Linked DNA regions of Homo sapiens: all the other regions are linked to region 1. The links come from fine-mapping of genetic effects on gene expression. A gene starts in region 1. Each other region holds a variant in brackets. All regions are shown on one strand. Distances are from middle to middle. Region 1 holds the start of PPP1R9A (protein phosphatase 1 regulatory subunit 9A). Region 2 overlaps PPP1R9A (protein phosphatase 1 regulatory subunit 9A). Region 3 has its middle 25 kb from the start of PPP1R9A. Region 4 overlaps PPP1R9A (protein phosphatase 1 regulatory subunit 9A). Region 5 overlaps PON1 (paraoxonase 1). Region 6 overlaps PPP1R9A (protein phosphatase 1 regulatory subunit 9A).

Evidence for each region. PIP is the estimated chance that this variant, and not a neighbour inherited with it, causes the effect. A credible set is the group of variants that fine-mapping cannot tell apart.
Region 2: its variant is the best candidate, but not a certain one, in a credible set for the expression of PPP1R9A in lung (TOPMed, PIP 0.65).
Region 3: its variant is the best candidate, but not a certain one, in a credible set for the expression of PPP1R9A in nasal epithelium (TOPMed, PIP 0.55).
Region 4: its variant is the best candidate, but not a certain one, in a credible set for the expression of PPP1R9A in tibial artery (GTEx, PIP 0.73).
Region 5: its variant is the best candidate, but not a certain one, in a credible set for the expression of PPP1R9A in whole blood (TOPMed, PIP 0.58).
Region 6: its variant is the best candidate, but not a certain one, in a credible set for the expression of PPP1R9A in atrial appendage (GTEx, PIP 0.65).

Annotation. Positions count from the first base shown.
Region 1 is chr7:94,905,748-94,909,749 of GRCh38, reverse strand. PPP1R9A (protein phosphatase 1 regulatory subunit 9A) reads right to left here and starts at 2,156. Exons shown (of 20, transcript NM_001166160.2): 1 at 2,048-2,156. RefSeq lists an enhancer at 1,339-2,099.
Region 2 is chr7:95,294,567-95,298,568 of GRCh38, reverse strand. PPP1R9A (protein phosphatase 1 regulatory subunit 9A) reads right to left here. Exons shown (of 20, transcript NM_001166160.2): 20 at 2,169-4,002. It overlaps PON1 (paraoxonase 1), which reads left to right. Exons shown (of 9, transcript NM_000446.7): 9 at 1-893. Among named protein-coding and RNA genes, the nearest start is that of PON1, 28 kb to the left of the region's middle. The variant T/C (reference allele first, on the strand shown) is at 2,061.
Region 3 is chr7:94,881,086-94,885,087 of GRCh38, reverse strand. No RefSeq gene overlaps it. Among named protein-coding and RNA genes, the nearest start is that of PPP1R9A, 25 kb to the left of the region's middle. The variant T/G (reference allele first, on the strand shown) is at 2,309.
Region 4 is chr7:94,975,015-94,979,016 of GRCh38, reverse strand. All of the region lies in intron 2 of PPP1R9A (protein phosphatase 1 regulatory subunit 9A), which reads right to left. Among named protein-coding and RNA genes, the nearest start is that of PPP1R9A, 69 kb to the right of the region's middle. The variant G/T (reference allele first, on the strand shown) is at 2,058.
Region 5 is chr7:95,311,783-95,315,784 of GRCh38, reverse strand. PON1 (paraoxonase 1) reads left to right here. Exons shown (of 9, transcript NM_000446.7): 4 at 295-463. Among named protein-coding and RNA genes, the nearest start is that of PON1, 11 kb to the left of the region's middle. The variant C/T (reference allele first, on the strand shown) is at 1,700.
Region 6 is chr7:95,171,803-95,175,804 of GRCh38, reverse strand. All of the region lies in intron 5 of PPP1R9A (protein phosphatase 1 regulatory subunit 9A), which reads right to left. PPP1R9A-AS1 (PPP1R9A antisense RNA 1) reads left to right here. Exons shown (of 4, transcript NR_183324.1): 2 at 716-858. Among named protein-coding and RNA genes, the nearest start is that of PPP1R9A-AS1, 41 kb to the left of the region's middle. The variant A/G (reference allele first, on the strand shown) is at 2,424.

The DNA.
Region 1 (4,002 bases):
GTTATCATTCTGATTGGTCTTTGGTAAAAAAAAAAAAAAAAAAGTTCCAAACACAATTTGGAGATACCTATCAAAATCTCACACACACACAAACACATACACACACTCACAAATACAAGCTACACATAAGTATATTTGAAAGCAATACTTTAGCCCAAGTTTTGGTCGCTTTTGTGAATGCCCTTTAAAAAGAAACCAGCAGTTCATCGATCTTTAAGAAATCATCAAACTGTCCAGAAAATCAACTTCATTTAGGATTCTCCACAATTAGGTAGAACTTATTCTTTCTAAGTACAATTAAGTTTGGAATCTATGTTTACAAACTCCAAAACATGCCTACAGCGGCATATTTTACTTTTTTTGGTCCAATGTTCTCATCTACAGCATCCCCAAAGCAATACTAATGCAATTTCAGATCAAAACAAGGAGAAAAAAAGTTCCTGAATAGCAATAAGTTTCACTAAGTTCAGTTATAACAAGTATTTGGAAGTTTCCTAACAGTGGTTATTATTAATTATGGAGTGGGATGCAGACTACCAAGGGAATAAATGCGTAAGAATGTGACAATCAGAAAGCAAATATACTGTGACACCCCTTTTCACAGCCCTGATTTGTTTATTCTTTCTTGCCTCTAACTTACTACAGTTCAACACGCAACGCAATGCATGCTTGCTGGTCTCTTTAAGCCCACAGCAGGATTTTATATCAATAAGCCAGCAATCAAATACTTCAAGATATGCTGAGGAGCAGACAATGCAGGCAGTTCTAAAGATTTTTCATTTTATTTTTGTTTTGTTTTGATATTAGACCGAGCCACATCACCCTCACGCACAATCAGCTGAGGAGGCACACACTTTCACTTAAACCGTCTCCAAACTCGGCTCCTGGCCCAGCACGCATGCATGGCCCATGCAGACAAACAAGAAAGGCTTTGGAGTGTGGTGCCTGTTTTTTTCTTTTTTTGTAAAGCATCGACAATCTCCTTTTACCCTGACCATTCTTTTTAAAGCCACAAACACCCTCCCCTCTCCCCTACACACACCCCCCATTCCCTCCCCCGCCAATTCCAACCCAAGGAGGCGGGGGCGGGGGAGATGGGGCCGCCGGGGGATTCAAAACCTGCCCTCACAAAAGACAAACATAAATAACACCAACTTGAGAGGCAGCCGATTCCCAAGCCCGGTTCGGGACGCAATCCCTCGGCCCTGGGGCAGGACCGGGAGAGCAGGTGACGCCAAGCGCTATGGTAGGAGGTCGCAGTCTAGCTTTGTGCCAAGAAGCACCTGAAGTCCTAACACATTGGCTGCAGCTCCCGGCGGCTGCCAGGCGGATCCCACTGTGACACGGAGAGAGACGAGCTCCCTGGCCACATTTAAAAAAATAGAAAAGAAAAAAAATTACAGGGTAATGAAAATAAATCCCTTTGTTTTTCCTCCCAATGTGCCAGGAAACAATAGATCCCACTGATAATGCCTCCGATCTTCAACCTATTGCTCCTCCACCACAACCCACCCCCACCCCCAGCCTGCAACTCAGCCTTTGTACAAGCCGATTTTTTCCTCCTCTCCACCCTCCCCAACTCCTCGCCCCGCGCTCAGCCTCCCCCTTACCCGAGCGGGAGCGCCGCGGGCGGGGAGGGTCGGGCCGCCGCGGCTCCCACCCCCTCCTCGCAGGCGCCCCCCGCCCCACGGTGGACGCGGCGGCTCGGCTCGGCGCCGGCCCGCTGGGTACACCGCAACCCGCTCCTCACGGCGCAGCGCGTAGGGCGGCTGCGGCGGCCGCTTCCACTCGCGCGTCGGCCCCCAGGCGCTCCCTGCCCGCGGCGGGCGGCCCCGGGAGGCGCGCTGCGCTCCCCAACGCCATTGCGGGCGGGCGGCGGCCCGAGCAGCGACGCGCCCGCACGCTCGGGCCGGCCTGGGGCCAGGGGTGCCGGCCGGGGAAGGGGTTTGGCCCACGTGCGGTCGCCACGCCGGGCCGTTTCGGCGGCCGCGGTGTAATGGAGGAGAGGCCGCGGGGGTGAGGAAGGCCGGGGTAACAGGTGCCTCACCTCGGCTGATGGGATTAACTCTAGGGCCGCAGAGAGAGGGAGCCCGGCAGCAAAATCCCGGGAGAGGGAGAGAGAGGGAGCCTCTGGCGGCCAAGGAAGGGCGAAAAGCACCGGCCCGAGGCGAGGCCGCCCCACCCCCTCGGCCGTGGGCGAGGGGCCTCTCCGGCCTGGGGCAAGGCCCCTTCCTGTTCGGGTGTTGGCTCCGGAACTTGGTTCTGGGGCTGACCGCTGCTGGGGCCCCACTTAGTCTGAGTCTGCAGTTAACTCCGTGACCCCAAGGCATCCAAGTCCCAGGCCACTCTGCTGACCTGGAAGGCCAAGACGTAGGCCCAAGTCTGGTGTGGCCTTCACCTAAGCCACTGCGCCTGGCCTACTACTCACCTTGACCTTAAGATCTCACTGCCAAAGAGAAAGGGATGAGGAGGTCTTCTACCTTTCCTGTCTAGGGAGAGTTTTTCAGCTCACTCCCCCCCGAACCCCGCCCTTTTCTAAAGGCTCAGTACAACCTCTTACACCCCCAAGTACCGGAAGTGTTACCACCTTCCTGCAAGATATAAAACTGATCATGACTGTCAATACAGATGTTTAAACCAATCCTTCCAAAAAGCCTAGGGAGCAGGAACTCTTAAAAAATAATTTTTCAAGAAGGTAAAAACATGACAATGGTAGAAATATAAAATGAACATTGGTCAAAATTTTTATAACTCTTTTAATTAGGAAGGGAACCCCAGCAAGATACTGCAACCCATTCACGTGAGACTGTGAAGAGTAGACATAGAGGCAAGAAGAGGCAAATCTGCTTACTATTCTATAGAGCACTGAAATGTAATGTTTATTATTATCTGCTTTACAGGGCGGTAACCAGTTGTATCTGTAAAGTAACAAATTTGCATTCTGTAGATAAAACTCATTTACATTACCAAACGTTTCTACAGCTTACTGAGTAGTAAAATAGCCTAGTGAAAGTCAGTCTAAGTAAGGTGCAGACGACTGTAAATTTCACAACACTCCGGAGTCCTGTAGATAACATCCAGCATTCCATTGAAAGGACAAACAGTAATCTTTTGCTCATTTCAAAGTCTTTCACAAGTTTTCCCAACATAACTATTTTTAGCCCCATTTCACTGATGGAAAAACTAAGGTTTAGGTTTTGTAACTTACCCGCTTCTTTATTGGCTATTAATAGTAAATGATTATGGCTGAATATGAACCCAGGCAAGTCCGTACACAAATTCTATATACTCTGGGAGCAAAATCTTTTCATTTCAGAAGGATTTTGTAACTACTCAATACTCAGTTCTATGTATTTTTTAATTTTAAGCAGCAAGGGCTTTTTTTTCCTTTAAGCATCACCAAATTCTGGGTCCTTTCCCAAGAAATTGGCATTCTCTGTCTACGAAGTGGATGTCACTTCTATAAGCATAAACAGATGTAACAGGCAATGTGAGGGGGCTGTGGTTCCAGGCTCCACTTTTGGAAAGAACATTTCTGCTGTCTGGGATAATCTAGTGGAAAAGTTCCTGTCATTTATTTGCAGTATGGAAACCAGGTTTTTTAGGCGAATAACCTAAATAAATGCAGAATCTAATCACTGAGTTCTGTCTGTAGAAGAGGGGGCAGAGTTGGCAATAAAGACAGTCTTACACCTCTTTGCAGAAAGATGATTCATACAGAAAAGCACCCTAAAGGATTTGGTTGGTTTGAGTTTTATCTTTTGAAAATCTGAAACTTCTGGAAAAGTTCATACTGAAGGAATGATAGAGTTTTAAACCCGATGGTGAGAATTTAAGATTCCTAGATTTCCTATAATGGACCTTCCATTTCCAACACTTACTTGAATGTTTGAAGGGTCTATTAGACTGCTAATCCAATACATGCGGCTATTTAACTTTAATTAAAATTAAATACAATTTAAAATTCAGTTCCTTAGTCACACAAGCCGCATTTGAAAGGCT
Region 2 (4,002 bases), 390 kb before region 1:
GACACAGGGGAGCAGGGTTAGCTCACGTGTCTTTAGAACTCCAGTACTCACCCAGGGACTCCAGTTCACAGGCCAGAAAACATATGCATTATGAAGTTCCCCTCTACTCCATGCACATAGTAAGTCTGACTATGGCAGTCAGACTTACTTACTCCCATTTTCCCTTCGATATATGACTTTTTCTCAGTAAATATTAACCTGAATTATTCCAACTCCCCTTGTACTCTTGCTTTTTCAATTCTCCTGTTGCAATGACACATAGGAAAATCTTAAAATTCTTGGGAGTGTTGTCACACCTGAAAATTATGAGTCTCTATGATCTTGGCACAAATTGTACATTTGAGTGTCTTTGACTTGGTTAAAGGAAGTTTGTTCACTTCGATGACTGGATACAGAATGAATCCCATAATTGACATGGGCGAAGCTAAAAGTGTCCCCAAAGACTACACTGTTGTTGAGGTGGTGGTAGTGCTGGTGGGTTTTTGTTTAATATTTAAACTTCTTGTTGTGGAGGCTGAAAAGAAAAAAAATAATAGAAAGGTAAACAAACAAATAAATAGAAAAGATCAACAACCCCTTTGGCTATCTACTGAGACATGACTAGGAAGAAAACATGACTTTATCATTTTGTTATAGAAACTGATATATAAAGGTTACACATTTTCATTTATTTGTTTTTCTGATTTGAAGGTATAACCTTCATGATGAATTACTTCTTCAGGGTGTTAAGGCAGTGACTTTAGAAACAAATTTTTTTCTTGTTTTTGTTTTGTTTTTGAGACCGAATCTCACTCTGTTGCCCAGGCTGGAGTGCAGTGGTGCGATCTTGGCTCACTGCAACTTCTACCTCCGAGGTTCAAGAGATTCTTGTGCCTCAGCCTCCCGGATAGCTGGGACTACAGGCACACACCACCATGCCCGGCTAATTTTTGTATTTTTAGTAGAGACGGGGTTTCACCATGTTGGCCAGCCTGGTCTCGAACACCTGACCTCAGGTGATCCACCCGCCTTGGCCTTCCAAAGTGCTGGGATTACAGGTGCGAGCCACCACACCCAGCCAGAAACGAAGTTTTTCTAAGGCACTTGTTATGATGATAGTCTGGCATTTCCGGGAAAATGTTTTGCCAATAAATTGAGAACCACCAACAGTTGTTTAAGAATCACTGACTTGAAGTAATAAACAGGAACATTTTGTTTGGGTCAAAAAACCACTTTATTCACAGCAAGATTGGAGTTACTCATGATTCCAGTGACATAATATCCCGTGCCCTACATGGGCTCAATTTTTCTGAGATGCTGCTCACAGCCCAGGATGCTGGGTTCTCTGAAAGACTGTCTTGAAATTATCAATGAGTGTGATGCTTAGGGAACACCCCCAACATATTTCATTATTTAGAAAGAAAGAATTTCCTGAGTAGTTAGGCTCCCTAACATCTTCAATAAAATGACCACATTCTGTTCTTTCTTGTTCTTGATGATAGATAAGCAAATTCCACTGAAGAAACAAAAGCCTATCCAATTTGACACAGCACATACTCAAGATCACTCAAAAAGGGACATGGCTTGGTTAGAAATTTCATAACATACATTGTGAAAAAGAGGAAAACAGCTTAATTCATGTATTCTGTGATTCCCAGATCTAAATTTTCGCACTGACATAGGCTTAGTCACATATAAATTATAGTTTGCGTGTGTAAGAATGAATGAAATTAATAGCCCTCACTTATTTTTAAGGCTTTAGAAAGAATATTGTTTAAAATAACCCCATACTCTACGATGGTCCTGATTCTTCCTTAGCTTGCCCCTCGCTATGTGAGACTGACTACTTAATGGATTTGTCACAGAGGTTTTCCTGGCTGAGAGATATCAGAGACTTTGATGGTGAAGCAGCGACAGGGGAACAAAATGACGGGCGAGGAAGCTTCGAGTGCAGGCTTTGCTCTTTTAACTTTATGCCCAGTTCCATAATTGTGCTTTCAAATGTAATTTCTAGCTGCCAATTTACACTTTACCACAGTTAAGACTTAGTTTCATTTCCATGAAAAATGTGCACTTTGCTC[T/C]TGATTGACAGATATATGCTTTGACAATTGATACAGGTTTACCCAGTCAAGGCTTGTTTTAGTTGAAGGTGAAAATGGAAGAGGGAAAAAAAATTGCTTCAACAGACCTCAGTATTTCTTTTTATTGCATTCGTTGTCTAACAACAATAATACTCATTGGCAAGAAATTTATTTACACTAACAAATTAAATTTAATCACAGGTATTGTTAGATTGGTCAGAAAACAAAAGACCACTGTGATATTTTGCTTGAATGCCTCTGAAAACCAAAGAGTAAGGAATGTCATTTGAAACTTTTTGAACAATCTAGAGAAGTACATATTAACCAAGCACAAGAGAACAATTCAGACGTGGCACTATTGTCTCTTCCATGCAAATGATCAGACATCAAAATGTACAAATTAAAAGCTTAGGTAACATGCTATCCATACTTATCAGACTTAAAATTATTTTCAAACAATTCGTGTTCTTTACTGATATACAAAGAAAGCTGAAAAGAAATCAACTTCTTACAGTGGAATAGAATTTATTCTCTTTTATTTTCAGCTGCCCAGTTTTGTCAGTAAGGTGTAGCAGGTGTACAAGTGGTTGCAACACCATTAAAAAATATAAAAGCAGTAGTTATATTAAATAATGTTGAAGAAAACATATACATATATATTTAAGGAATTTCACTAAGCACTAACTAAATTTCATGTTGTTGGGAGGTGTTATCTGGCTGGAGTGCCTCTTAATTCTTTTTAAGGTAATTTAATTATTTCTTGCCAATTGTTCTTTCTTGAATGAATGATTACATCCTTAACAGAAAACCTGGGTGTATAAATAATACAGCTGAAAGAAACAGAAGTGTACACCTTCCAACAACATACACTCCCAACCACTTGTGTTGTTTTTGGCAACAACCAAAATGCCATTGCTTGCACAAAAAGTAAATAAATGATCATATGATGGCAACATTCATCATAAGAGAGCCAGTAGGCAGTGACTGTAAGCATCACAGCCACCAATTATGTCATTTTAGAATTGTGAGCAAATTCACAAGAACACACAGTGCAATTTTTAGCTGCATACATTTCTTCTGAGCTCCAACTCAGCAATATGCAATCTTGACATCAAAGCATTAGCCAAATATTTGAGGAAATTTTCTTACTAAAATACCAAGTATCTGATAAATCAATTTTACCAAAATATATAAACATATAGAAGGATAAGTGCATTTAGTAGAAATACTTACAATAAAAAAATCTCTTAAAATCTATGAGCCATTCAATGTATACACAACGCAAGAAGTGGCAATAAGGCTATGATTACAGCTCCAGGTCCTGACTGACCTCGCCAAGTTCCATACACAATATATTTTTTAATGCCATGTGATTGCAGTGTGTGTGCGTGTGTAAGGTGGGAGTGATATTCACACATATGTAGTTCTGAACATCTACACAAACGGCATGCACATTGTTGAGAAGTTATCTGTTCTCTTATTGCATACATCTTACTCACTGTTGAATCCCTAGCAGTTTTGGGGTTGGGTTAGGGTCAAGCATAGGAAATCATCATATTTCTTTCCTTCTCCACTCTTGAGGATCTGGAATCAGGTCACAGACTGTGCTGGGTCCACACGCTTACATATGTGAACCTTCAAGTAACTACCATTCCCTCAATAGGCCCACATAGACACCACGGACAAGCAAATAAGGACCCTCTGTCTACCATAAATAGAACTTGATGCTTTCACTTTCCAGGAGAAGCTGATTCTGTCGGCTTTCTCTTTGCCCCTCCAACTTCTTAGTTGGGCCTATTCTATGCTGCTACTTCAAGTTACTCAAATGTGTTTTGTCTGGTGTTATTTTTTTCTCCAGTGTTTTGGACCAAGACTAGATTTCCTGAGACTTTAAATACGCAAGACAAATGCAAACAAAATCTGCCAACATACCCAGGCTGCT
Region 3 (4,002 bases), 25 kb after region 1:
AGAACACTTATATAAGCCTACAGTTGGGCAAAATCATCTGTCAACAAAGTACCTTATATTGACCTAAAAGGAAGAAGCTGGCCGGCACGGTGGCTTACACCTGTAATCCTAGCACTTTGGGAGGCTGAGGCGGCTGGATCACCTGAGGTCAGGAGTTCAAGACCAGCCTGACCAACATGGTGAAACACCATCTCTACCGAAAATACAAAAAATTAGCCAGGCATGGTGGCAGGCACCTGTAATCCCAACTACTCGGGAGGCTGAGGCAGGAGAATCACTTGAACCCAGGGGGCGGAGATTGCAGTGAACTGAGATGGTGCCATTGCACTCCAGCCTGGGCAACAAGAGCAAAACTCCATCTCAAAAAAATAAAATAAAAGGAAGAAGCTGAGGCAAAATTAATATAAGTAGAGTTTATTTGGCCAGCCTTGAGGATTGCAATACAGGAGCATAGATTCAGATTGCCCTGAATATACACTCTGATCAGTAGCAGTTACAAGTGGATTTTTAAAGGCAAAAAAAAAAAAAAAAGATGGGCACAGGGAGCGGGCTGATACAAATTTGTTTGTTCAGAAATTCTCATTGGTTTATAGAAATAACATTGATTAGTGATTGTACATTGTTAAGCTATAGGGTATGGGTTAGCGTGTCCACTGTGGCATTATTGGGCTAATTTATAGCTACTTGTGGCAATAGCCAGAAGTTTCAAGAGATGAATACATAGCTCAAAGGTGGAGGAGGGAGTGATTGCTGTCTCATTTTAATGCCTCTCTGGGCCTAATAATAGGAAAGGGCTCATATTCCTCAGATGAAAGTTCTCTTTATTCCTCACCTGTGGAGTATCAGTTGTGGTCATCCTTGTGATTGTGTGACCGACTGGGTGCTGACACTTGCTGTTGATGCCCTACACCACAAGAGTAGCATATTGCTAGCCCTGAAAAAGATCATTCAACACTTGAAGTACAGTTTCCACTGACTGTATGACTTTCACACCATCATACAGTTGAAAAATCCGAAATGGAAACATTGTAATGAGGCAGGATAGTAACCAGGTAGTCAAGAAAGTAACTATGTCCTCAGGATTCAGCAACAATGCCGCCCCAATAAGCCCAGTGTTTGCATTGTAGTCAAGCTCATTCAAGCAAAACTATCTCCAGTAGGAAACCTCCCCTGTAGAGAGCATGTGCATTGTGATTTGACCAGTCATCAGACTGACCCTTTGCTTATTATAACAGTAAAAATCACACCCCTGGGTGGAGCTTTAAAATATTAATGAGACATGTGATGTATAAACAAGCATGTACAGCTACTGTGCATGTGCACCCAGAGGACCACCCAAAACATGCTTCCTAGCAACCTCTTCCCACCCCCTTATGAATAATCATGTAAGCCTCCATAAAGGGAGTTTCCTTAGTAATGGTCAATGCTGTCTCATCCTCATGAGCAGTCCCCTCTGAATTGCCTCTTAGGGTATACTGTCTATTCTGAACCTAACTTTCAGAGTATTCTTTCTCCTTTGCAATAAATTGCTCTATGCAATATCTCCCTTGCTGTGTGTCTTTTGTTGAAATTCTTTTAAACTAAGAAGACAAGAACCTAGGATTCACAACAGCCATCAACAGTAAGTCAGGGACCATCTGTAGTGTGTAGTTGGATGGACAGGCAAGGTTATCATTGATTTTGTCAACCAATTCTTTCAAGAGTTAAAAACAACAGTTCTTGTCTTACTAATTGAGTCTTTACAAAAACAGAAATGCAGCTCTAGAGGTAATGCAAAGCCCACCTATGTTTCTTACCAATCTCAAAATTCATCTCAAAATGCTTGTAGATAATGTAGTAGAAGGTCAGGACATTGCAAAAGGGACTGTCCTATACTAAAAAAAGAAACTTAAATACTAATTACTCTAGGTTCTGATAATAGGCAAATATGCTCCTGAACTCCTCCTTAGAGCTTTAGAAAGCTAACATCATTTCTCTGTCATTCTGTGGTCAGAATGAGTTGGGACAGAGCAAGTAATCAGAATGAGTCAGGGAGGAGCAGGTAATCGGAATGAGTCAGGGTGGAGCAGGTAACCGAAAAATGTTGCTTTATGAGGAAATAAAGTTTAAAAGTAGAAGGCAAAGAATTGAACATACTGACATATTGATTCTTTGAAGAGAAATTTAGAACTCATATCTAACATTCCCTCCTCTTGCATCTTCCTTACAGTTCTTTCTCTTCAAACTTCTTTAACATGTCTTGGCTTAGTTGTTCTGCTTGATTTTCCAAAAGAAGAAGCTTCTCTGGATAAGGTGGAGGATAGCTAAG[T/G]GAGGTTTTAGTAAGTGCCATTCTTTTGAGCCTCTGCACCAACCCACAGATGCATGGTGTGACATAGCACCCGACAAGAATAAGTACACCCATTAAGACTGTGAGTGAAGTAAGAATTGAGGCTATTATTCTTTTCCATTTACTGAACCATTGTTCTAGCCATCCTGTAAAGAGGTCATTTACCCTGAGTTGTTGGCTAACTCATTGGACAGAGCAGTCAGACCTTGCAATGTCTTTGTTATACTTCCATCAGGGGCGGTGTTGTCTGGGATGAAGATACAACATTGAGTTTTAATTATGATGCAAACTCCTCCTTTTTTTGCAAATATCATGTCTAAGGCTATCCTATTTTTTCCAAGCCATCTGGCTAGTAGCCCCTAATTGCTCAGCTATTCCTTTAACAGCATTTCTAGTGTAGTTAACAGATCGCTGTTGGTTTTAATAGATGTAGTTTATCTAATCTACATTTTATTAATTGTCACCCACCAAAATATTGACTCAAATCCTGCAGGTGTTTGATTTCGGGCTTTAAATTGATCTGGTATTCCCCATGGGACTCTAATTGTGTCTAAATAGACTTGAGAGTCGAAAGACAAAGACACATAAGGGGCTTCTTTTGCTTTACGATGTCTTATTTTTCCTTTCTCTGACTGATGAAATGCAAGGGTGAACCAATTGGACTAAAGCACAAGTGCCACTTCAGTTACTTGGCAGAGTGTCCAGTCAAGGTCCGCCATAATACCAGTACACATCTGCTCAGGGATGAATAAAGGCTGATTGATTGGTAAGCTCCTGAAAATTCTTAAGGTCACTGCATCCCTTCAGGTCTCCAAGGAACACTAAGTTGCCTCCCTGTCGTGAGGGACATAAAATGAACTTAGTGTTGAGAGACGGAAGCTGGATAGCCCTCGGGGGCTGACCCTCAGGGTGTCAAACTTTGGGATATAGCAGACAGAGAGCTTGGCACAACTTGTTACCTCAGGCTGCAGAATCCTGGAAAAGAGCTACCATGCAGCCCACACCCGGTCGACTGGAGGACCACCCTAGTGGAAAGGGGACAATCTGGGCCTCTGGCCTGCTGTGCACACAAGCATAACAATTGCCTTTGTTTAACGTATGGACGGAATATTTAATCCATTTTAACCAGGCATTTACGGCTTTATACCCCGTTTCAATGGCTATGGTTTGCCTTAGGTTTCCTATTTTTACTACTGAGACCTTGCTTTTGTCACTTGGCATAAGGCGAGTCATAGTTTGACTTCGTAGGTTTGGAAAAGGGGCAGCTGTAGGAGGTGGAGAAGGGAGAACAAAGCACACCTTAAAGAAGCCTATAGGATCTTTTCCAGTGACTTCTGCTCCTAACACAGAAATGCTCTAAAGTGGGGTTAGAGTTGCTAGGGTTAGGAATAGTAACGGATGTAAGCACCGGGTAAGGAAAGGAAAGGAAAAGATAGATAGACTAAGCTTCCCTTAGCTTTAATTTGGTAGGGCTTGATCCAGGAATAATGGCCCATGATTCTGATAATAATGGCACTTGCTTGACTCAGGTGTGATGTGTCCATCCTTTTCCACTGTACGAACAGCAGTCTCGGTGGTTAGTAGCACAAGGTAGGTCCTTCCCAGGCTGGCTCAAGTTTCCCTTCTTCCCACCCTTTGATGAAAATGTGATCCCCAGGCCGATGCTGATGTACTGG
Region 4 (4,002 bases), 69 kb before region 1:
GAGACCAGCCTGGCCAACATGGCAAAACCCCATCTTTACCAAAAATACAAAAATTAGCTGGGCCTGGTGGCACATGCCTGTAATCCTAGCTACTCGGGAGGCTGAGGCAGGAGAATAGCTTGAACCCAGGAGGCGAAGGTTGTAGTGAGCTGAGATCACGCCACTGCACTCCAGCCTGCGCAACAGAGCGAGACCGTGTCTCACAAAACAAAACAAAAACTGTTGATGTTTTAAGAAGAAGCACTACTCTGAACATCTAAATTAAATGGATTCTGGAAAATAAATCAGTCTAGAATTTTCAGAAATGTTGAAAAGTTGAAACAGTATTCAGAATACTTACACTAGGTCATTATTTCATTCTAAATATGACTGGTGTTTATTTTGGGAAAAGCACTCAGCGAAGAAACCACTGAATGAAAATGAATGCAGCCCACAAAAAAAAGATCAAGATAGAAAAAAGTGTCGAGAAATGAATTGGCAATGTAAAATTTTTAAGCAGCCTCCAAGAAAAGGAGTAAGTTTTTAGGAAAAATACTATCATGCCTAGAATTATTTATCAGGCTTTCATAACTTTACTGAAGGAGAATCTGTAATATTTATTCAGTCTTTCAAGCATTTATTCTTTCAGTAGCCATTTACATGTCACATAAAAATTTAGTCTACTCTATAATCATAAATCAATTAAAAACATGCAGGCTCTATATTTAGTAGATAGCCATAATTTGGCTTTTTGGTACAATTCAATCTCAGGTAAACTGAAACAATTTACTCTCCTAGATTATTCCTTAGCTAGGTATCTTATAAGAAATCACTTTATGGCCTAGGAGAATTATGCCACTCCCCATTCCCTATCCCTCAACGTTCACAGGCTTTGCATCACAATCTACTTTGAAGACACTGGAGCTAAACACTCACTTTATCCCCTTCATATCAGTCACCACAAGAAGCCCAAGATGGGCCGGGCATGGTGGCTCACGCCTGTAATCCCAGCACTTTGGGAGGCCGAGGCGGGTGGATCATGAGGTCAGGGATTCAAGACCAGCCTGGCCAATATGGTGAAATCCCATCTCTACTAAAAATACAAAAATTAGCCGGGCATGGTGGCACGTGCCTGTAGTCCCAGCTACTCAGGAGGCTGAGGCAGAAGAATCGCTTGAACCTGGGAGGCAGTGGTTGCAGTGAGCCGAGATCACGCCACTGAACTCCAGCCTGGGTGACAGAGCAAGATTCCATTTCAAAAAAAAAAAAAAAAGAAAATGAAAAAGAAGACCAAGATACCCAAGTCATCCTTCACCACCTAGCCTCTTATCACCATAACATTCTCTATATCCCCTGATTTGGCCTCATATCCCAACCATCCTCTCAGGAACTCATTGTCAATTGTCTACAGATTGATAAACAGTCTGACTTGTTAATCTTCAATTTAATTATCTCCTCTAAATTCTCTCCTGAACTCACCCCATTCAAGCTTTTGTCCCACCTCTCCATGAAAATGACTCCATTCAAAGATTACCAATGTCTTCAATGTTGCTCAATGGTCAATTCTCATCTTAGTCGAACCATCAGCAACATTTAACAAAACTGATCACCCCATTTTCTTGAAACATGTTTCTTAACTTGGCTTTTGGGGAACCATCTACCTCAGCTATTCTTGATGGTCACAGTTGCTCTTCTTGGTCTACTTTGCTGATTCCTTGTCTTCCCAGCCCCTCAATAATGGAGAGCTCTGGGGCTTGTGACTCGAATCTCTTCTTTTCCTATATTCACTCTCTAGTGACAACTGCCAAATTTCTCTTCAACCCAGACATCTCCCCTAAACTGCCTTTCGAACACCTCAATTTGAATGTCTAACAGGCACCTCAAGTTTAATATGTAAAAACCATATCCTTGATCCCCTCTTACTCCCACAAGCCCCCATATCCTTCAGTCTTCCCCACTGTAGGGAAAGGCAATTACAGGATTCTAGCTGTTTAGACCAAAAACCTGGCTGATATCCTTTACTCTCATATACCATAGCCAATCTGTTAGCCAAGTTGGATCTACCTTCCCAATATATC[G/T]CAACACACACTTACTTATTCAATTCTCATTTATTCTCTAGATCCCCAGCAAGAATATAACCTACATAAAGAAGGGACCATGTCTGTTTTGGTCACTGTAGTATCCCCAATACCTAGAATAGAGCCTGACACCAAGCAGATACTCAATAAATACATGTAGAGTGAATGATTAATAAATAAAAGATTCCAGATCCTTGATTCCATTCAAAATAACAGCCATCCCATCAAAGTAAAACATTCCCTGAGGCTGAAGTTAAAACAGCCTTACTCCCTGCTAAAAAGAACCTCTTTTATTTAATGAACACATATATTCACCAACCACAACCAGTCAAAACAAAATATGCATTAAGAATAAAACATGTTAGGCTGAGATAGGTGGATCACGAGGTCAGGAGATCGAGACCATCCTGGCTAACACACTGAAACCCCGTCTCCACTAAAAATATAAAAAATTAGCCAGACGTGGTGGCACATGCCTATAGTCTCAGCTACTCGGGAGGCTGAGGCAGGAGAATCGCCTGAACCCAGGAGTCAGAGGTGCAGTGGGCCGAGATCACACCACTGCACTCCAGCCTGGGTGACAGAGCGAGACTTCATCTCAAAAAAAAAAAAAAAGAATAAAACATGTTAAATATAACAGATAATGTATTATGCATGACTCACCAAAGAACTAAAATCCAACATAATAAACAATGCCGTAATAATTTTTGTATTATTTTATGTTATTAATAATTTAGTAGGTATTTTAGTTTTCTGTCCTGTACAATACCAGTCATCACCATACTTGACAGATAACAGATAATTTCCCAAATAAACTTTATATCATAAGCCCTTATCAGTCTCTTTTAAAGACAGAAAGTGATTAACTCTGTTAATCAATGCTGGCTAAAAAAAATACAGGAGCACTAACCATTTTGTAACCAAACCTGAACACACAATCCCTGATATAGAGACATAAACTTAATAATGACCCAACATTTAGAGAGAAAAGAGAAAGTAAAGAAAGAGGAAGACAGAGAAACCGGGGCTACTTTCTAAAATAGTAATCACTAGGGGAATGAATAACCTGAAATTGTACCTTTATAATTGAGAGGAAGGGGTTAAAAATGTACAATTAATAAATTACTGGTTTTTATGAATGACCAGTGACATCTTCTGAGAAGACCCCAATCCAGCTAAGCAAAGATAACCTATTTCTTTCAAACTGATTTGGGATATATTTTCCCACAGAAACAAAAATATCAACTCAATAAATGGAAATTGTACAGTTAATACTTAAAGTACATTTGGGTGAAAAATATTTGTGAACTGGCCTGGGAACATAGCCAGTAATTTTTGTACTGCTTCAATAAGGAAAAAAAAAATGTGTTCTGAGTTCCAAACAGCTGTCTTACACATAAACTTCTGAAACACAACTAGCTCATGTTCTGGAAACTGTGTATACAGGTTATATTTCAAGGGATTCAATTTGGCCCACAGCATTTCTGAATATGTTTAAGAATGAGTCACTTTACACTAGACCTCTTCCACTCAGATGCAGTTTCAAAGACCTCTAGCTTCAAGGATCTTAATCCTTAAAAAAAAAAAAAAAAAAAAAAAAAAACAAAAAAAAACTACAGCCTGTCCAGAGGTAAATGGAAATGTTGAACATTTTATAAATCTGCAGCAAAGCTAAAAGAACAGCTTCAAGCTACCAGGCTACTTTTCTTCATCTATGAATAAACTAGAGTAAACTTCCTTTATCACAGTGATTCATATCAATTTTTAGGTTATAGCACAATGTCACTGCTTATTTGATTTTGAGACCAGAGTATGTTATATACTAAGATTCTTCTAAAGACTGCAACACAGTATTTTTTTTCCAAATTAAGAGAAGAGTTCATTTTTTCAATAATTTAAAAATGCTAGCTAAACTTATCTGAAAAGCTCCCTAAGGGTCCTGAAA
Region 5 (4,002 bases), 410 kb before region 1:
CTGCTCTTCCATTTTTGATCTTTCTCATGGGCTGGAAGCTGTAGTGTCGTGCACATATGACTTTGCTGCAGGGGATGAAAGGGTTTGTGTGGGGTGGCCTAGTGGAGCATGTGGCTTCCAGAAGACTTCTCCTGGGGACCCATTACAGAAGCTAACTAAGAGGCTTCCTATGTGGCCATCTGGCTAGCCCTGTGGTTTGGAGCAGTCAACATGAACCCATGGGCCATGCAGCGCCTCTATTAGCATTTGAAGTACTGGTATTGTGCTTGATTTTTCTCCTCCATGGTTTATAAGGGATTAAAGTATCCTGGAATAAAGAGCTTCAACCCCAACAGTCCTGGAAAAATACTTCTGATGGACCTGAATGAAGAAGATCCAACAGTGTTGGAATTGGGGATCACTGGAAGTAAATTTGATGTATCTTCATTTAACCCTCATGGGATTAGCACATTCACAGATGAAGGTAACAATATTTACTATTTATTAAAACCAAAACCAAACTTAAAACAAAAACAGAAAAACATGCCAATAAATGAATTATTTTTTCTCATTCAAACAAAGCATAGTCATGAATAATGTTCTTACTCTGGGTTTTAAACTTACCCTCTATGTTAATTGAACTTTATAGTAAAACCACTTAAATACTTGAGAATGCTAAAATATTTAAGATTTGTAAAGCATCTAATTTTGTAAAATACTAACATTCACATTATCCCTATAATTACCATAATAATAATATCCAGCCCTGATCATTATAGCTTTTCCATTTTAAACGATTTTCAAGACTCGGGCATTTACAGGAACAGATTTTTCTAACCCAAGGCATCTGTAAGCTATAGGTCCAGTGACAGAAAGTCACCATGGTCAGCTTTCTGCCGGTCCCATTATCTTCAATGCCTCCTGTCCGCTGGTTCCTCTGTTCTGTGTTCAAAATGCTCCTCTGCATGTTGGTCCCTTTCAACATAACTTGGTGTCATCCTTTATGTCTTTACTCCCTTTCTCCCTTTCCATTTGCTGTCACTTCCTTGTCTCTGTATTAATTTTCAGCCCCAGTTGCACAATGGTAGCACCTGAAGAGTTTAAAAAGACTCGATGCCCAGCCCCCAGCTTGACAGATTCCAATTCCGTTAGTCTGAGGGAGGCCTGGATCACAGTAGTTGTTAAAAGTTTTTCAGTTGATAAAAATGTCAGGCTAGGGTTAAGAACCACGTTTATACCCATTACCTCCATTTCATCATCAGACGATCCCTCATTCAGTTCCTCTTCTGGACTTTCCCCACTGTGGGTGGCTAAAATTGCTACCTTGAGAATCATCAGTGATGTTCCTACTAACAAATCTCCTCTCTTCCCTTCCTCCCTCTCCTTCCTTCCCTCTTCCCTTCCTTCCTTCCTTCACCTCCTTTTGTTTTTTGTTTTGTTTTGTTTTTGAGATGGAGTCTTGCTCTCTCCCAGGCTGGAGTGCAGTGGCGCAATCTTGGCTCACTGAAAACTTCACCTCCCGGGTTCAAGCAATTCTCCTGCCTCAGCCTCCTGAGTAGCGGGGACCACAGGTGCATGCCGCCATGCCTGGCTGATTTTTCGTATTTTAGTAGAGACGGGGGTTTCACCATGTTGCCCAGGCTGGTCTCGAACTCCTGAGCTCAGGCAATCCTCCCATCTCGGCCTCCCAAAGTGCTGGGATTACAGTTGTGAGCCACCG[C/T]GCCCAGCCTACTTCACCTGCTTTTATGCTGTTTACCATTTTCTCATTCACAAAACTTGCTCTTCCCTGATACTGCAGTGCACCTAGCTGTTCCAGTTCTCATCCTACTACAGGTTTTCTCCCCAATTCATTGTTTTGTCACTCATTGCTACTTCCCTGAGCACTACCCCAGAGGTTTGATCTTTTACTTCCTCTATATTTTCTCTATTTTAGAACTTTCAAACCAGTGTCACACTGCCTGCTTTCTAGGAGGACATCCCCAAATAGGGGTATTATTATTCTTCTTCTTTTCATTAGCCCTTCACTTTTAATGCCGCAGGTGCTTACTGGACACTTCTATTTGGATTCCTTTCCTATAGACACTTTAAACTCAAAATGTTGAAAGTGATTTTCCATCCTTTTATCTTTCCTTCTCTTCCCCATGTGAGACACACACACACACACACACACACACACACACACACACATATACATATATATCCCTTTCAATGGACTTTCCACTCATCCACCCATTCATCACCATTATGTTTTATTTTAAAAATATTTTTAAGTACAAAGAAATATAGTGTTTGATGTGTGGATACTTTTTAAAATAAAAATGAGGTAATATTACACAACCCCTTCTATAAATTTCTTCTGCATTAAACACTACATCATGGACTCCTTTATATATAGCACATTTGCAGTTGCTTTGCCAAGGCAGTTCGGGATTCAGTTGTGTGGGAGCACTGTAATATAGCTCATCTGCTAACAAATATTTAGGTTGTTCCCACCTTTATGCTCATTGCAAACAATGCCAAAATAAACTTTCTCGCACATGTATTTTCTGAGACTATATCCTTAGGATACATTTCTAGAAGTAGAATCCACTGCACAAAATGTGAATTCAGGTTTTAATCCTCACTTGAATTTGATTTCCAACACCCTCCTTCCTCAGCTGTATTCAGGGCCTTTGGATTCTTCCTGTCAAATGCCTCTCATGACCTTTCCTGCCTTTTATTGCCAGTGGCATCCTCTTGGTCCAGTCCTTTCTCTCCACATTGCTGGATTACTGCTGTAGCCTCAGCTCATGTTACTCCTTGGTTCAAATACCCCAGTGAGCAAAGCTTGGATCTTCATCTTAAGCCCTAACAAGACTGATTCTGGCTCCCTGTGGTTTCAGCCCTCTCACTCTCCCACTCTCTCTTGCCTTCACTCTGCTCCCAGCACAACCTCACAATTAAGTGAATATGTCCAGGAAGTTCTGCCCCGGGGCCTTTGCACACTCCCAGCACAACCTCACTATTAAGTGAATATGTCCCGGAAGTTCTGCCCCGGGGCCTTTGCACACTCCCAGCACAACCTCACTATTAAGTGAATATGTCCAGGAAGTTCTGCCCCAGGGCCTTTGCACACTTTCTCCCCTCAACCTGGAATGCTCTTTCCCTAGATATCCACATTATTCGTTCTCTTATTTCACTTAGGTTTTTGCTCTAACATCCCCTCATCAGAGAGAACATGCCTGACTCCCATGAAGATAATACTTCGTTACTCTCTATTCTTTTATCCTGTTGTATTTTTCCTTTGTAGCATTTAACGCCAACTAAAATAAATTAAACACTTGTTTGCTGAATGGGGTAATGAAAATCATTTTAGCAGCTTTCTCTGTTCAAATCTTCTCAATTCAACCTGCCAAATTTTGCATCTTAACATGGTGAAACCCCATCTCTACTAAAAACACAAAAATTAGCCAGGCATGGTGGTGGGCACCTGTAATCCCAGCTACTTGGGAGGCTGAGGCAGGAGAATCGCTTGAACCTGGGAGGCGGAGGTTGCAGTGAGCCGAGATGGCGCCATTGCACTCCAGCCTGGGCAACAGGAGTGAAACTCCGTCTCAAAAACAAAACAAAACAAAACAAAAACGCCAATTTGATCATGTCAGAGGTTTCAAAAGACCTACTCTTTCTTAAGGCAAAGACCATAATCTAACTTTTACTTGCCAGCTCTGATCACACATTCTTGACCGCTTAGACTGGTCACCTTTGTGTTCTTAAAGTCCCACTTATCCAAGGAAGCTGCTTCTGTTTGTTTGCTACTATTTCTCAGATGTTCTTCTATGGAATGTATCATCTCACACTGTGTAAATTACACCTGATCACACCTTCTCATATTGGGAGTTCCCATGGTTTTTATCCCTTTCATCGCAACTGTGCATTTCGTGGAGACCATTTGAACTGGAAAACTTAAAGGATTCTTTGGAGTTTTAGTGTCAGTGATACTCATTCTTGAGAATTTTTTTTTCTCCTGTGGAGTTTTGAGTTTTC
Region 6 (4,002 bases), 270 kb before region 1:
AAGTTATTAAACCCATATGCTAGGGATAAAAGTGAAATGAATGCATAGTTATTGATCATGGGTAGCAGATAGTTTCTTGAAAGCATTTAAAGTTTAATGTGAATGACACTGAAGAGCAAACATATAAATCATTGAAAATTTCTTCAAATTGAAACAAAATCTCTGTCTTATATCAAATTTTGCCAAATTGCTGACAGTACTAGAATGATTGTCTGGAGTTAAAAAAAAATCTAATCCTTTTTCCAGAGTTCACTTTTTCAAATGCTTTATAATTATTACCATGTCTTTTAAGTTTTTTTTTTTTTAAAGGCAAAGGGTTATAGAATATTTTAACTTTTATATATAGAAGGAAAATAGTTATACCTCTCACCATCCTGGTCAATCTTTCCTAAATAGTCTCAAGTTTTTCAGGATTAAGTTGGGTATGCAACATAAATTAAATTATATTGTGGTATAGCATTAATCTATTTGCCCATCATCTGTCTGCCTGACTGACCATCCCTCCACATCCATCCATCCATCCATCCATCCATCCATCCATCCATCCAACTAGTTATTGATCCGTACTATGATAGGCTGCCTCTAACATAGACCCAAGTGATCCTTGACTCCTTTTATTTAAGTCTGAATGTAATTATCTATCCTTGCATGTAGGCTGGACATATTAACTCACTTTTATCAAATAAAATACAGAGCTGACGGGATGTCATTTCAGATTTTAGGTTACAAAAAGATGGCAGATTGCATCTTGGGCACTCTCTTGTATGACTTTTTGGAGAAGCCAGTTTTCATGTTGTGAGAGGCCTGGCAGAGGGGCCCAAATGAGTTCGCTGGGAAGCGGATCACAGAAACCATGAGGTAATAAAAGTTAGTTGTTTCAGGTCACTGAATTTTATAGTAATATGTTACACAACAATAGGTACACCAACTATGCCAGTGGTCAACAAGACAGGCAAGGTCCTGTTTATAGCTGTAGACTCAAGAAACATGAGTTTTCAAAAATTATGTTGCAAATTCATGTTTGATAAAAAAATTAGATGCAAGAAATTGTACAGAAAATATTTTCTGGTAAAAAGTCAATAATAATATTTTAAAAGTAAAAGTACACAGAACCATAAAATCTAGAGATTGCTAATGAAATTCACATTGATTACATCTGCCTTTGTTAAAGAGACACAGTCCTTTTCACATCACTATCACTATCAACAATAATCAATTCGTATGGTGCTTTTTAAGTTAACGATAGCTATTATCTCACATTTTAAAATTCAGTTTTACTGAGTTCAATCTATATACATTAAAATTGATCAAATTTAAGTTGTATAATCTGAGGAGTTTCGATAAATGTATACATAGTTGTGTAAGAAATACAGTAATCACAATATAGAACATTTTCATCACCTCAGAAATGGTCCTTCCTTCTTGTTTGCAGACAATTCCCTCCCTTCGTGATTCTGAGCAATCATAGATCTGCTATTAGCACAGTTTTGTATTTTCCAGAATTTTATACAAATGTATTCAAACAGTACACAGGCTATTGGCATCTGGCTTCTTTTACTCAGTATAATGGTTTTGAGAGTCATACATGGTATTGAAAGGATTGGTAGTTTGTTCCTTCATATCACTGGGAAATATTTCATTATATGGGATATAATACAATTTGTATATCCATTTATCAGTTAAAGAACACTTGAGTTGTTTCCAGTTTTTAGTTATTATGAAAAAGCTGCTATGAATATGCAAATATGAGTCTTTATATAAATATATGTTTTTATTGTTCTTGAGTAAATACCGAGGTGCGGAATTGCTAGCTGGTATAAGTGTATGCCTAACTTTGGAAAACCCTACCAGACTGTTCTGCAAAGTGGTTGTGCTATTTTGCATTCCGATCAGCAAATAAATGTGAACCTCAGTCCATATGCTTATCAATGCATAGTGGTATCAGTCTTTTTAATTTCAGCCTTTTTAGCAGGTGTACAGTAGAACCTCATTGTGGATTTAATTTACCTGCCCCTAATAACTAATAATGTTAAGCAGCATTTCATGTTTAATGGTATATCTACTTTGATGAACTGTCTCTTTAAGTGATTTGTACATTTTAATAGGACTTGCACATTTAAAAACTCCATTATATAGTTGTTATAATAATCTTATTGAATTACAAGAGTTCTTTATCAGAAAATTGTTTTACAGATATTCATTCTGTGGCTTGTTTTTCCATTTTCTTAAGTGGCTTGTTTTTCCATTTTCTTAAGGGTATTTTGTAACAAATGTTTTAAATTTTGACGCAGTTTATCATTATTTCCTCTTACACTTTTTGCTTTTGTGCCCTAAAAAAATTTTTAAATTGTTATATTGCATTAAAAATTTTTTTTCATTCATTTAGAGGGTATATATGCAGATTTGTTACATGGATATATTGC[A/G]TAGTAGTGGGGTTTGAGCTTCTAGCATACTCATCACCTTAACAATGAACATTGTGCCCAACAGATAATTTTTCAACATTCATCCTCCTCCAGTTCTCCTCTTTTAGAGTCCCCAGTGTATATTACCTACAGCGTTTCCCTCTGTATGTCCATGGATACCCATGTCTAGCTCCAATTTATATATGAGAATATAAGGTATTTGATTTTCTATTCCTGAGTTATTTCACTAAATCTAAAATTACAGATTTTTGCCTGTTTTCTAGAAATCTTAGTGTTCTAGCTGCTGCAATTAGGGTTGTGATCAGTTCTAAGTTAATTTTTATATATACTGTGAGATGAAGGTCAAGGCATTTTTTGGTTTGTATTTTGTTTTCAATGAGACTATTTAATTTTTTCAGCCCCATTTTTTGAGTTAACTATAATTTCCTCCACGGAATTACCTTGGTACCTTTATAAAAAAAAATCAATTCTTCATATCTGCGCAGGTCTGCACTGCAAAGTTCTATTCTGATCCATTAATCTATATTACTATTCTTATACCTCAACCAGATTGCCTTGATTAGTGATGCTTTCAGGCAGGGAAAGTCCTCCGAAATTTTTTTTAACAATAACATCTACAAAATAATCTTCTAAAATTTTTACTAGGGTTATGTTTAATCTACAGACTAATTTAGGGAAAGTTGAAATCTTAACAATATTGAATATTATAATACATTGAACATGGTCTACTTCTTCCCTCATTTAAATTGTCTTTGTGTTCTGTCAGCAATATTTTGTTGTTTTAAGTGTGGAAGTCTGCAATATATTGTTAGATTTACCTTTAAGTATTTAATATTTTGGATGCTGTCATCAATGTTATTTTCAATCTGAATTTTCAATTATTAATGTTGATAGTATATACACTCTGATTTCTGCACATCAACTTCATCTTCTGTAACATGATTGGACAACTTCATCTTCTATAACATGATTGGACTCAGTTATCAGTTCAAGTAGCATCTTTTGTAGATACTTTAGGATTTTCTTCATGGTCATCTGTGTATAAATGACCATATTGCCTGTGAATAAAGAGTTTTACTTCCTCCTTTTCATTCTATGGGCTTTCAATTAGTTATTACTGTCTCAGTGAATTAGCTATGGCCTCTGGTACAATCTTGAATGGAAGTGGTGAGGGTAGAGATATTTGCATTGTTCTTAATACCAAGAGAAAAGCATTAGGTCTTTCACCATTAAGAATGTTATTAGTTGCAGGCTTCACTAAGATCCTATTTATCTCATTGAGGAAATTCCCTTCTATTTCAAGTTTCCTGAGAGCTTTTTTAAAAAAATCTACATCTATTGAGAAGAACAAATGACTTTTACCTTAATCCTATCAGTAAGAAAAATTCCATGGGTTGATTCATAAACATTAAATCAACCATACATTCAAACAATAAATGTCACCTGGCTATTGGATTTATAATCCAATTTGGACTTCTGTATTTACATTCATGAGGAATATTGGTTTGTGATAGTTTGTATTTTAATGCCTTTTAAAAATTATACTATCATAGCAACATTGGCTTCATAAAAGTAGTTG